Homo sapiens: one gene and its partners. Changing the gene in region 2 together with the main gene of any one other region gives a genetic interaction. Each region holds a gene or a part of one and is shown on either strand. Other genes may lie near its edges.

Region 1 (3,500 bases), on a different chromosome or scaffold from region 2:
TTGCCTCTTAGTAAATTCACACCATTCAGCATTCTTTGCATTTCCTGTTGCCCATTATGTGTTTCTACCAAGAGCAGAAGTGATTCTTCCTCTGGAACCTGACCGTGCCTTCTATATAGACAGTTACCACCAACGTAACAGTCCTCTTTCATGTCTAAATACTGAAATTTATTACCAGACTTAAACTTTTTTTTGAGACAGTCTCTCGCTCTGTTGCTCAGGCTGGGATGCAATGATGCAATCTCGGCTCACTGCAACCTTTGCCTCCTGGGTTCAAGCGATTCTGCCTCAGCCTCCTCATTAGCTGGGATTACAGGTGCCCACCACCACGCCCGGCCAAATTTTTTTTTTTGAGATGGAGTCTTGCTCTGTCACCCAGGCTGGAGTGCAGTGGCACGATCTCGGCTCACTGCAACCTTTGCCTCCCAGGTTCGAGCCATTCAAGCCATTCTCCTACCTCAGCCTCCTGAGTAGCTGAGATTACAGACGTGTGCCACCATAGTTGGCTGCTTTTTGTATTTTTAGTAGAGGCGGGGTTTTGTCATGTTGGCCAGGCTGGTCTCGAACTCCAGACCTCAGGTGATCCGCCCACCTCGGCCTCCCGAAGTGCTGGGATTACAGGCATGAGCCACCGTGCCCAACTCTTTTTTTAGACAGAGTCTGCCAGACGTGGTGGCTCACGCCTGTAATCCCAAAACTTTGGGAGGCCAAAGTGGGTGGGTCACCTGAGGTCAGGAGTTTGAGACCAGCCTGGCCAACATGGTAAAACCCCGTCTCTACTAAATACAAAAAAAAAATAGCCAGGCGTGATGGCACACACCTGTAATCTCAGCTACTCGGGAGGCTGAGGCAGGAGAATCACTTGAAGCCAGGAGGCAGAGGTTGCAGTGAGTCAAGATTGCACCATTGCACTCCAGCCTGGGCGACAGAGTGAGACTTCGTCTGGGGAAAAAAATAAAAAAGAGTCTTCCTCTGTTGTCCAGGCTGGAGTGCAGTGGCACGGTTGCAGCCCAACCCCCTTGCTCAAGCACTCGGTGGAGTGCGCTCAGCTTCCCGAGTAGCTGGGACTACAGATGTACAGTATCATACCTGGCTAATTTTTGTATTTTTTAAAAAATATTTATTTTTATTTCTAATATATATGCTTTTTTTTTTTTTTTTTTGAGACGCAATCTCACTCTGTCGCCCAGGCTAGAGTGCAGTGGCGCAATCTTGGTTCACGGCAACCTCCGCTTCCCGGGTTCAAGCGATTCTTCTGCCTCAGCCTCTCAAGTAGCTGGGATTACAGGCATGCGCCACTACACCCAGCTAATTTATTTTTGTATTTTTAGTAGAGACGGGGTTTCACTATATTTGCCAGGATGGTCTCAATCTCTTGACCTCATGATCCGCCCGCCTCGGCTTCCCACAGTGCTGGGATTACAGGCATGAGTCACCGTGCCCAGCCTATATATGTTTTTTGATATCAAGATATTCTTCCATTTCATTGTTCTTCAAGGTTTCATTTCCCTTCCTCCTGCCTAGACCCTGTGTTGGCAGCTTTAATTCTTCTCTCATCTATATCTTTAACTTCTTTGTTATTTGATTTTCAGATATTCTCTTTAAGATCTCTAATCCTGTGAACACAAGTGCAAAGCAGAATACTTATTTATTTATTTATTTATTTATTTATTTATTGAGACAGAGTCTTACTCGTTCTGTCACCCAGGCTGGAGAGCAGTGGTGCAGTCTTGGATCACTATAAGCTCAGCCTCCCGAGTAGTTGGGATTACGGGTGTGTGTCATCATGCTGGCTAATTTTTGGACTTTTTTTTTTAGTGGAGATGGGGCTTCATCATGTTGGCCAGATCAGGCGATCTGCCCACCTTGGCCTCCTAAAGTGCTGGGATTACAGGCGTGAGCCACTGTACCCGGCCCAGAATACTCTTGATGTTACTCACACTTAGGTAGGAGGTGTGGGATAATGAAGAAAACACACTTTGGGGTTCAGGCAGTTTTTACTTGGAGTCTTAGATAAATCTGTAACCTGAATACCCAAGTTTCTTGACTGTAGTAGGGTTAATGGTATCTAGTTTATTTTGAGAAATGTAAATTGTGTGATAGTGCCTGGAATTTATTAAGTATTCAACAAATATTTGTCATTCTGTCCCCTTCTCACCCCAATTCTGGGATTAGTGCCACAAATACAGTGCTTATTCAGGCTCTTCCAAATCGCTCTTCGCATCCAGGAAATTACTTACCTGATGAGAAAAATAGCCAAACAAGCCTAACACTCTTTAACATTTTTTCCACGTTGCATAAAGAACATGGCAAAATACCAGGATTGGCAAATGCCGGGATTTGCCCATCTTCTCCCTATTCTTATGTTTTTATCTCTGTTCTTCAAGGAAGAAATATTCTGTCTTCTATACAGTATTTTCTTTAAAATTTTTTTAAATTGTTAGCTCAAACACTGCGTTAAGGATCTTCTTTTCAGTGTTAATCCTCCACCTCCTTTGAGATACCACCTTATTACGCCTTTTCTCTACATACTCAGCCTTTCCCCTAGTGGCTCCTCTCAGTGTGAAAGCACATGTGGAGGAGAATAAAAATCATAGCATTAGATAACCTTCCATGATTCTCATGATTTTTTTTTTTTTTTTGAGAGAGACTTTTGCTCTTGTTGCCCAGGCTGGAGTACAATGGTGCGCGATCTCGGCTCATCACAACCTCCGCCTCCCAGGTTCAAGCAGTTCTCCTGCCTCAGCCTCCCGAGTAGCTGGGATTACATGCGCCACCACGCCCAGCAATTTTTTTTTTTTTTTTTTTTTTAGTAGATGTGGTGTTTCTCCATGTTGGTCAGGCGGTCTTGAACTCCCAACCTTAGGTGATCTGCCTGCCTCGGCCTCCCAAAGTCTGGGATTACAGGCGTGAGGCACCGCACCCAGCCGATTCACATATTCTACTTTTGGCTTTTACTTACTGTTATGTGAAATTTTTACAATTTATTTTTACATTAAGACATGATTTAAATTTACTATGTTCCTTAGTAAGGGTAAACATACTTTTCTTTGTATCCTAGCCAAAGCCATAAGGAAAGCAAAAGATTTTTAAAGGCTAGAATTTAGAAGATCTCATTTCCAGTGTGCTTTTCTTTGGAAAATGTTTTGTCCAGTTCTTTAAATAGCTTAGAACCAGTTTTAGGAGTTGCTGCTTCTATTAACACTTTATGAGCTCCCCAGAAGCAAGATTCTTAACCCAAAGAAAGCTGAGATTAAGAGCATAAATGCCAAGTTAATTTGAGGAATTTATGGGACTAGAACATGGGCCTTCTGATTTCTAGGTTCACTGCTACAAATGAACAGAATCTATTTCCAAATTCGTGAGTCTTATGTCAACTTGGAGTACACACTGTAGCAGTCTGCTTGGGGGACTACCTCTAGAGTTAGTTATTTCTCTTTTTTGAGAATTTGCTGAAATTTTTGTAAATTCCAACACTAGCCAACATATACCAATGTCTT
Region 2 (3,500 bases):
CAAAGAAGTCAACTCAGATAAAAGAAGATCTGGGATACAGAAAACAAGGACCCCAATACAAAAGCAAAGTGAAGAGAATCCTTGGAATGATACCAAAGGAAGATTCAAAGAGAACATACATGCATCAAGTCTAGACAGCAACTGCTGTCTAGATTTTCCAAAATTGAAAAAAAAAAATACCCACTTAATATGTAGAATGTATTAAAATAAGACTTATATTGATGGAGAAGAGAGTTTGATTGAATTAGTCATATGTATATAGAGCACTGAGAAAATGAAGAGAATTTTTATCTATTAGGTTTAAGGTTATAGGGAAGCTGTACCTGAAAAGACACTATAGTATACCACTTAGCTATGATTAGCACTTGCATTGTCATGTTTTAAACAGTAAATAGTTATCTAAAAAAAAGTCATGATATAACAATTCTGGAATGATAAGGGACCATGAAGGGGGTCTGTGTGTGTGTGTGTGTGTGTGTGTGTGTGTGTGTGTGTGTGTGTTAGAGAGAGAGAGAGATACGTGAAGGTATGGTGTAATGGGAAGTCCATAGGTAATGCCAAACCTGAAAAATCAAGAAGTAACAATATAACCAAAGCTATGTGGTTATAACATTTAAAATTATAAAATAACCAGCTAAAATAGTTAAATTGAAATGTATCACCTCTGGAGATCAAGACATAGAATAAACTAAAATATGCACATGTATAACTTTACTAAAATTAAAAATGGAATTAAAAACAAAGTAATAGCTATGGGACAAAATAGTTACAGATGCTATTCTCTTATAATAAAAGTTGCATATGTATTATCTAATGACCCATTTTAGAAATTATTAGGTTGTATAACTTGATATCGGCCCTTCATGTCATTTTCGAAACTTACAAAGTTGTCTCTTTGAAAAAAACATCAGTTTGGTTGATTTTGAATAGGACTTGGATAGTTAAAGGAATCACTGTTGAATGAAAATCTATGAAAAATATTTGTCAATATGGTGGTATACTCTTCAAGCTCCTCCAAGAAGCAAAATCTGTTTGTGAGTTGCTGAAACTTTACTATCTTCCTTTCTATTCCTGTCCATCACACTGCCACAGACAGCACTGTCTGGAGATGTGGAATCAAGACTGATAAAGGCCAGTAGGGAAAGCAACTAAGATTCTCCAGACCTGAACATATTGGAGGGAAAGATAGCTTATGAGGCCCTTGGATCTTTTTATTGTCCTCTTTATACTGGGAAGTTTGTGACCGTTTTTAAAGAGGGATGCCTCTTTAGCCTCCCCTATAACCTGGCCCTGTTCCAGTTCTGCAAAAACATGCCTTCTTTGGGTTCAGTTAGTGATACTGGTAAGAGTTGAACCTCTAATTGTAATGAGATCCCTTGAAGCTCAAAAGACCTTAAGACACGAAGTTATGAATTAATAACGAAAAAATCTTCATTATAGCATTTTGATCAGAGGAAGAATCACAGCCCCCTTCCTTTTTTTTTTTTTTTTTCTTTGATATAGGATCTTGTTCTATCACCCAGGCTGGAGTGCAGAGGCATAGTCATGGCTCTCTGCAGCCTTGATCTCCTGGGTTCAATTGATACTCTACCTCAGCCTCCTGAGTAGCTGGGACTACAGGCATGTGCCACCATGCACCACTAATTTTTCTATTATTTGCAGAGATGGGGTTTTGCCATGTTGTCCAAGCTAGTCTTGACTTCCTGGGCAAGTGATTCGCCCACCTTGGCCCTGCAAGGTCCTGGGATTATAGGCGTGAGCCATAGCACCCGGCTCACTTTCCCTTCTTATCACAGATTGAAGGACTACGTTGAAGGCTGGCCACTGCTCTGACCACTGCCTGCACCATAGAAGTGTTTTTTCCTACCTGACAACTTGATTATAATTTTCTCCAGTCTGCAGTGATTTTTAGGACAGCAGAGTTCAAGCATTTATTGCCCATATTAATGAAACCTATACTCTAACATCTAGCCGATACCTCTGCTAGAGAAAACTTTCTACCTATACCTAACCCCTGTCTCACCCTCCTGAAGTACACTCTCACCTGACTTCTACTTATCCTTCCATTTTCAGCTTGTCATTTTCTCTCAGAATCTGGGATAGATGCCCCATTATAGGCTTATCATTATAATTAAGCAGCTGATAACAAAGCAGTATGCTGATTGCCCATCTCTCTCTTTGGTCTATAAGACTTGTAGAGGCAGGAAAAAGCATCTATTTGTTTTTTCACTATTGGCCTTCTTGGACCGAATATAGTTCCTAGACCTGGCATCAGAGGGACTCAATAAATATTTGTTAACTTGAGTGGATTTGCTATTGTCTCTACTTCTTAAAATGTAGTCTTATATTCTCTATCACATTGTGACTGCATATGGATAAGAGGGTATGGATATAGACATCTTTCCTAAGTCTATACCATCTATATAGTACATTAGTTTCTATCTGAATGGCACAGAGTAATTATGGCAATTGCTAGTCTCCACCCCAAATGGGAATGTTAAAATCTGCAAAGTGCTTGGCTTTCTTAGACGTGAAGTTCTTGGAATCCATTAACAAATAAATGCATCTTCATTTTATAATATAGTAGGTCTAGAGATGATGAGACAACATCTAATATACTTGAGGATTGTATTAGATGAATGGCAAGTCATTTGGCACACTAAAATGCTCTTAATGTGATTTGTTTACAATCTTTCTGTTTTATTGCAGCCGGGGATCTGACAACAGACTGGCTCACCGGCGGCAGACAGTTCTCCGTGAGAAGGGGAGAAGGTTAGCTAATCGAGGACCAGCATACATGTTTAGTGATCGCTCCACAAGCCTATCTATAGAGGAGGAACGCTTTTTGGATGCAGCTGAATATGGTAACATCCCAGTGGTGCGGAAGATGTTAGAAGAATGCCACTCACTCAACGTTAACTGTGTGGATTACATGGGCCAGAATGCCCTACAGTTGGCAGTGGCCAATGAGCATCTGGAAATTACAGAACTTCTTCTCAAGAAAGAAAACCTCTCTCGAGTTGGGGATGCTTTGCTTCTAGCTATTAGTAAAGGTTATGTTCGGATTGTGGAAGCAATTCTCAGTCATCCGGCTTTTGCTGAAGGCAAGAGGTTAGCAACCAGCCCTAGCCAGTCTGAACTCCAGCAAGATGATTTTTATGCCTATGATGAAGATGGGACACGGTTCTCCCATGATGTGACTCCAATCATTCTGGCTGCCCACTGCCAGGAATATGAAATTGTGCATACCCTCCTGCGGAAGGGTGCTAGGATTGAACGGCCTCATGATTATTTCTGCAAGTGCAATGACTGCAACCAGAAACAGAAGCATGACTCGTTTAGCCACTCCAGATCTAGGATTAATGCCTATAAAGGCCTGGCAAGTCCGGCTTACCTGTCATTGTCTAGTGAAGATCCAGTCATGACGGCTTTAGAACTTAGCAATGAACTGGCAGTTCTGGCCAATATTGAGAAAGAGTTCAAGGTAGGTCACTAACAAT
Region 3 (4,270 bases), on a different chromosome or scaffold from region 2:
AAGAGTATACGATGTCCAGGTACAGAGGCTGCCCCAGAAACAAGACAGAAGTAGGCAGGGACCCATGGCTCTCATGGAACACGCTTTTGGTTAGAGGCAACAGATAAGGGTAATACATTTATAGCATGCCAGTAAGTTCTATAGTACGGTGTGTTGAGTAGGTGTTGCAGAGAAAAAGGTATGCGGTGAAGGCCGGGTGGTGACGGCCTAGGCCACACTGAAGAGGCAACATTTGAGCAAAGACTGAAAGAGCAGGTGGGAAGAGTCGGGGACAAGAGCCGCCAGAAAGTGTTTCCGGGGAGGGAAGAGTCAGGGACTCTGAACCAGGCCAGGGCAGCTGGAGTGGAGTGAGAGGGAGGGAGGGTCTGGGAGTATGGCGGGGTGACCGGAGGCAGAGCAAAGCACTGCAGGACTTCAGCTTTACTGAGTGAAATGGGCGGAGCAGAGTGTGAATGTGATCAGACTTCTTTTCAAGGGATCATCTGCAATGCTGGAAAGGAAAAGACAAATGATAGATTATTGCAACAAACAGCCAGGCAAGAGATGCAAACTTTTTTTGCAAAGGTGTGTGTGTATATACATCCTTGCACCGGACAGCCACGAAGCACCTACTGTGCTGTGAAGTCAGTAAGGATGTGGGTTAAAATCGCTCACCTCACAGCGGGTCAATCGGGAAAGCACACCCACTCACTACAGCCATTATGGGAAAAAGGGCTCGCCCCTTACAGGATCCTCAACTGTGGAGAGGCCGGGAGCCCACGCGGGGCGCTGGGGAGTCTCTCAGCACCCCAGGGGTTCGGGCAGGGACCTGAGCCGCGCCCTCTCTCCCGGGGGTGCCCTGGGGTCGAGGCTGCTCGGCAGAGCCGGCGGTCAGTTCGAGCCGCGGGCCCGAACAGGGCTCTCCCCGCGGCTCTCTCCCTCGGAGTAGAAGGTGCTGGACCCGAACTCCAGCGGAGCCGCACAACACGTGGAGGAAAAGCGCCAGGACAGCTAACCTTCCCACCTTTTCAAACCTGAAACCCGGCCGGCTGGGGACGGTTGGAATGTTCAGTGCGTACCCGCACCTCAGGCCCCTTGTCTCCAGCCCCAGACCGCCCCGCGACCATCCTCCCCACCCCCCGACCTCTTATCTCGTCCCCGCCCTGTCTCCCCAACCTCCATCCTCCCCTCCACAACCCCCGTCCTCCCGCCCTTCGGCCACGCGCGGCTGGCACAGAACAGGCAGTTAGCGCACACACACTGGAACAGGCGCCACCGTTCAGGAAGTCTCTACAAGACCAGGACCCTGAGGCCTCTGGAAGTGCCGGGACCGAACCAACCCCGCAGAGCGACTAAGGCGAGGGCAGGAGCCAAGAGAATCGTAGCCGCGGTCGCGGGTTGAGCTCCCACCACCCGGACAGCGCGCCTCGGCGATCGCGCACGCGCCACGCCCCGGAAGAGTTCCTGGGCCCGCGACGGTGGCCCGGAAGCAGTCCCCGGTGTCGGGGCAGGAGGCACGCGCGCGGCTGAGGCGAGGTCGCTCGGCGCAGCTGTTGCGGGGCCATGGCGGGGACCGCGCTCAAGAGGCTGATGGCCGAGTACAAACGTGAGTCTGGGGACCCGGGCCGTCAGCAGCGTCCCGCGTTCCTGCTCCCGGGCCCGCGTCGTCCGGCGGGGCTGGGGCAGGGAGCCTGGCGGGGGAGCCGGGCCCGGGGCCTCCACCGTGAGCCCCCCTGTGGGTCCCGCGGAGTGCCGCGCCCTGCGCCCGCTGCCCACTCTCACGCGTGAAGTCGTGAAGAGAAGCCTTCCCAGCATCAGTAAAGGCAGCGCCGGCGCCGTGTTAGTTGAGAGCACACACAGTTGAGTCTTTGCGGGCTTGTTTTTTTCTCTTCTATTTTTTCTTTTCTTGGCAGCCTTGAGAACGTGCAGTGAGAGCTTGAGGAAGAAGGCCTGACTTGCTGCTGCGGAATTAGGAGGGAAAAGTGTATGCGTTAAAAGGGGAAAGGCTCGTTGGTGGAGCTTTGAAAGGTCAGATTTTGGCTTTCCCTCTAATGAAGGAAAAGGGTTTTTGAACAGTGCCACCTGTCACTCCTCCTAGGTAGTGTTGAGGAAACCTCTTGAGTGCTTTCCTACCCGGTAAATTAGATATTTCTAATGTCTGAGGAGAGCGAAGGGAGAAATGAGAACCTAGGAACACTCGGCATTCCATCGTTTTACACCGAATGCCCGCTTGGAAGAACTGCTGCGAGAAGTCTTGGAATACCATTGTGTTGAAAGCGCCAGGAGCCTGAGTCGCCGATGGAGACGAGATAGTAGCCGGCTAAGAGCAGGGCCTGAGTTCAGACCCGGCCTCTCTGCTTGTTAGCTCTTTGACCTTGTTCCTCTCTCTGTCTCTGCAGTTTCCTTGTCTTAAAAGGTTAAACTTGATACTGCAGGTGAAGTGCTTAGCAAAATACCTGATGTGTAACCCTTAATAAAGTTAGCTGCTGCTTTTGTAATTAGATTGAGGATAATTTTGGAAGAAAGTTAAGCTAAAAGAATGAATGTGAGAAAAAAAATAAGTGGTGAATATACATGTAGCTTGATTTCGTAAAACTATTGGTGACACCGCCCAGTAAGAGTTGATGTTTGGCTTAAGCAGACCAAAACGTTGCAAATACAGGCTCACTCACGTATGGTCATTCTTCCCTTGGTATCTGGAGGGGATTGGTTCCAGGCCCCGCTGCAGATACCAGAATCCTCGGATGCTCAAGTCCCTACTATAAGGTGGCGTGGTATTTGCATTTAATGTATGCATAGCCTCTCATAACTTTTAAATCATCTCAAGGTTACTTATAGTACCTAATGCAATGTAAGTGCTGCACAAATAGTTACACTGATTTTTTTTACTTGTATTTTTAAATCGTCATTTTTTATTGTTATTTTTTTCAAATATTTTGTATTCCTGGTTGGTCGAATCCATGGATATGCAGCCGCAGATACACAGGGCCTCCTGTAAACGTTCAAATAACGCTCGCCACCTAGTGTCTGCTAAAGCAGAACATAAAGGCACACCTCAGTTTCCCGCGCGCTTTGCTTTATTGAGCTTCACTTCGCAGATCTTGCATTTTTTACAAGTTTACAAGTTTTTTACAAGCAACCCTGCATGGAAGCAAGTCTGTTGGCACCATTTTTGCTCGCTTCGTGTCTCTCTCTTACATTTTAATCTATTACTGTGATCTATGATCAGTAATCTTTGATGTTACTATTGTAATTATTTTGGGGCATCACAAACTATGCCCATAAAAGATGGTAGTCCTAATAAATGTTGTGTGTGCTTCACTGACTGGCTGTTTCCCCATCTCTCTCCCGGCCTCTCTCTTCCCTGAGACAAAACAACATTGAAATTAGGCCAATAGTAACTGTACAGTGGGCTCAAGTGTTGAAGTGAAGAGTTGCACTCTACCCACTTCAAATCAAAAGCTAGAAATGATTAAGTTTAGTGAGGAAGGAATGTTGAAAGTCAAGATAGGCTGAAAGCTGGGTCTCTTGTTAGCCAAGTTGTGAATGCAAAGGAAAAGTTCTTAAAGGAAATTAGAAGTGCTGCTCTGTTGAACACAATGAATGATAAAGTGAAAAAGCCTTACTGCTGATATGGAGAAAGTTTTAGTGGTTTGGATAGAAGATCAAACCAGCCATAACATTCCTTTAAGCCAAAGCCTAATCCAGAGCAAGGTCCTAACTCTTCAGTTTTATGAAGGCTGAGAGCAGTGAGGAAGCTGCAGAAGAAAAATTGGGAGCTAACAGAGGTTGGTTCATGAGATTGAAGTAAATAACCTGTCTCCATAACAGAAAAGCACAAGGTGAAGCAGCAAGGTCTCCAGAAGATCTAGCTAAGATCAAGATGAAAGTGGCTCCTAAATTAAGCAATAGATTTACAAGGTACGTAAAATAGCCTTATACGGTATTGGGAGGAGATGATGCCATATACAACGTAAACAGCTAGAGAGAAGTCAATGACTGGCTTCAAAGGACAGGGCGACTCTTGTTAGGGGCTAATGTCGGTCACTTTAAGTTGACTGAGTTGAAGCCAGTTCTCATTTATCATTCAGAAAATCTTAGGGCCCTTAAAAATTATGCTAAATCTACTCTGAGCTCTAGAGATGGAAAAACAACCTGGATGACAGCACATCTGTGTACAGCATGGTTTACTGAATATAAGCCCACTGTTGAGACCTACTGCTCAGAAAAAAAGATTATCTTCAAAATACTATTCCTGACAGTGCACCTGGTCACTCAAGAGCTCTGATGG
Region 4 (2,551 bases), on a different chromosome or scaffold from region 2:
GTTATTTATTTTTTCAGATGGAGTTTCACTCGTTGCCCAGGCGGGAGTGCAATGGTGCAATCTTGGCTCACCGCAACCTTTGCCTCTCGGGTTCAAGCAATTCTTCTGCCTCAGACTCCTGACTAGCTGGGATTACAGGTGCCTGACACCACGCCCGGCCATCTTTTTGTATTTTTTAGTAAAGACGGGGTTTCACCCTGTTGGCCAGACTGGTCTTGAACTCCTGACCTTAGGTGATCCACCCCCTCGGTCTCCGAAAGTGCTGGGATTACAGGCATGAGGCATGGTGCTCGGCCATAAAAAAAATTTTTATTTCTTATTTAGCTTTGCATAGTGGTTTGCAGGTACCTAATTAATATCCACCTAGTGATAAAAAAAATATAGGAAATGGTGATGCAAAAAATAAATTTATCTATCTCAAAAGACTATCAACCTTCTAATTTCAGATCACCATGACTTTGTCTATTGTAGGAAGTTTTATTGAAGTTTCTTCGACAAGGTAGTAGGCCTACTGAAGGCCCCATGAACAGACAAAAAATATAAAAGGCAGCAAGCCAGATGGAAGGTATTAGTAGGTACTATTCTCCTTGGAACTGGATCTTTGAGTCAAGACAGCTGAGAAGGGCTTGATGAGGGGAGCAAGGAGAACATTAAAGCCAGCTGACTTTACTAAACAACTGTATTATCTGACTCAAGACAATCATACAATAAACAATATACTCACCTTCAATTTCTGTCCAGTTGACAGCAATTTCTGCTATTGGAATTTTAAAGAACTGTGCTATGTACAGTAGTTCTACATCAAATGCCCTAAAATAGAAAATATATTGATATTTATTTTTAAAGACAAATAGAACACAACTACATCTCTACCTTGGCATGTTTTAAAGAAGCTTACATGGCAGATATAAAGCTTATACCATAAATCTGAAGATCAGATTCACAGAAATCAAATAATTCAAAGCTGAGTAGTTCAGAAGTTTCAAGTCAAATAATAATTTAGAATATCATTGCATAATATTGTATCTCTATTACAACTCAGAAACTCACAGAGGTAAAACTAGCCTCATGGGTTCCAAGAAAAAATTTAATCCTGGAAAATTTCAAGATTGATGGTTTTCAATCCTAACCTTAACTGGACTAGCTCAAGGTAAAGAACTGACATTTTCAACTGATTCAGACAGCTGATAAAACAAAACTCTGAGATGCTCTAGTTGAGACTGTTTTACATTACTTTAGAGTTGGTTGCCTATTTTCTTCTACCATCAGAGGATCCAGATTACTTTTCTAATAGTGTCCCCAGGGCCTTCCTTGTCTTTTCTGTTCCCCTTCCCTGTGGTGTCCTGCACAATATAATACTGGCAACTATTGAAAGTAAAAAGCTACTTTGGACTAGTCTGAAATACTCTTTGGGTATAATTAATACATACATAGGAATCTGATATATTGTCTTACTTGTCCTAATATATACTGTTAAAACCATTTCCAGTCTAAATCTCCAGTGTATCCTTCCTTCCACTTACGAAAGGTCTTTCTTAAAGCCTCTTTTCAGTCAGTGCCTTGGCTTAGGTCAAACCTGCTTTCCTTAAAGGTTCTGAATCCTGACTCATAAGTTTTCCTGGATTCTGCTTACAAAATTTCTCTGAACTAGTTGCTTCTCTCACTGGTATTAAAGCTCAGGAAGAAAAGCACTACTACCTGTTAAATCTTCTTCATCGTCATTGAAACTGTCTAAAGTCCTTGACTGTTTTGCCTTCATCCATGAGTCAGTCCCCACTTTCTAGGCTGCACAGAGCACAGTTCAAACTTCTAGGGCCTGGTGTAAAACATTATTAATACAGACAAGAAAATGCCTAAAGTCCACTTATATTTGATTTCTCCAATCCCAGACAACTTGAATTTGGGAGATTTTTTGGTTTTTTGCCACAATACCATAATCATCCATTAGGTAAATAGTTTAAATTCCAAGTATTATGATAAAACCACTTACAAAAGTGGGTTGTATTTTAAAACTTTCGTCCCCTAGAATTGTGATACTTATGAAAAAAGAAATAATTTCAATATTAAGCCTGGTGCTTTACCCTTAACTTTCCTTTTAACACAAAAACAAAATATTAGCTAGTGGGCTGAGTTAGTTCTAATGATACTTGATAACCTGAAAAAGATTATTATATATTATTTCTAAGGATATCAGTATATAGCTAGTGACTTATCAAATACACAAAACAATTGAGTAAAAAAGAGTGGGGTGGTTAACTGAAATCACCTTATATTAAAAAAAAAATCCTAGACCAAAAGGGTTTTTCGGTTTGTTTTAAACAGGGTCTTACTCTGTCATCCAGGCTGGAATGCAGTGGCGCAATCAGGGCTCACTGCAGCCTCAACCTCCCTGGACTCAGGTGATCCTCCCACCTTTGCCTCCTGAACATCTGGGAGCATAGGCCCAGATATTCCTTACTAGTCCTATAATTTTATCTTCTTCTTTTCTAGTTTTGTTCTTTTGAGATTTCCTCAATTTTATTATCTAGCCCTCTTTTTGAATTTTCATCTC

The links. A genetic interaction does not mean that the proteins touch.
Region 1: changes in TRPC6 (region 2) and METAP2 together harm fitness less than expected from each alone (positive genetic interaction), as found in Homo sapiens cells (one large-scale study listed by BioGRID).
Region 3: changes in TRPC6 (region 2) and UBE2G2 together harm fitness less than expected from each alone (positive genetic interaction), as found in Homo sapiens cells (one large-scale study listed by BioGRID).
Region 4: changes in TRPC6 (region 2) and ALG5 together harm fitness less than expected from each alone (positive genetic interaction), as found in Homo sapiens cells (one large-scale study listed by BioGRID).

The regions. Positions count from the first base shown.
Region 1 is NC_000012.12:95,505,152-95,508,651, forward strand, and holds part of METAP2 (methionine aminopeptidase 2), read left to right. Parts: intron 1-3,500. UniProt on the Homo sapiens protein: Cotranslationally removes the N-terminal methionine from nascent proteins. The N-terminal methionine is often cleaved when the second residue in the primary sequence is small and uncharged (Met-Ala-, Cys, Gly, Pro, Ser, Thr, or Val).
Region 2 is NC_000011.10:101,504,008-101,507,507, reverse strand, and holds part of TRPC6 (short transient receptor potential channel 6), read left to right. Parts: intron 1-2,709; coding exon 2,710-3,484; intron 3,485-3,500. UniProt on the Homo sapiens protein: Forms a receptor-activated non-selective calcium permeant cation channel. Probably is operated by a phosphatidylinositol second messenger system activated by receptor tyrosine kinases or G-protein coupled receptors.
Region 3 is NC_000021.9:44,799,021-44,803,290, reverse strand, and holds the start of UBE2G2 (ubiquitin-conjugating enzyme E2 G2), read left to right. Parts: upstream 1-1,470; 5' UTR 1,471-1,542; coding exon 1,543-1,585; intron 1,586-1,892; exon of another isoform or gene 1,893-2,007; intron 2,008-4,270. UniProt on the Homo sapiens protein: Accepts ubiquitin from the E1 complex and catalyzes its covalent attachment to other proteins. In vitro catalyzes 'Lys-48'-linked polyubiquitination. Involved in endoplasmic reticulum-associated degradation (ERAD).
Region 4 is NC_000013.11:36,951,790-36,954,340, forward strand, and holds part of ALG5 (dolichyl-phosphate beta-glucosyltransferase), read right to left. Parts: intron 811-2,551; coding exon 725-810; intron 1-724. UniProt on the Homo sapiens protein: Dolichyl-phosphate beta-glucosyltransferase that operates in the biosynthetic pathway of dolichol-linked oligosaccharides, the glycan precursors employed in protein asparagine (N)-glycosylation.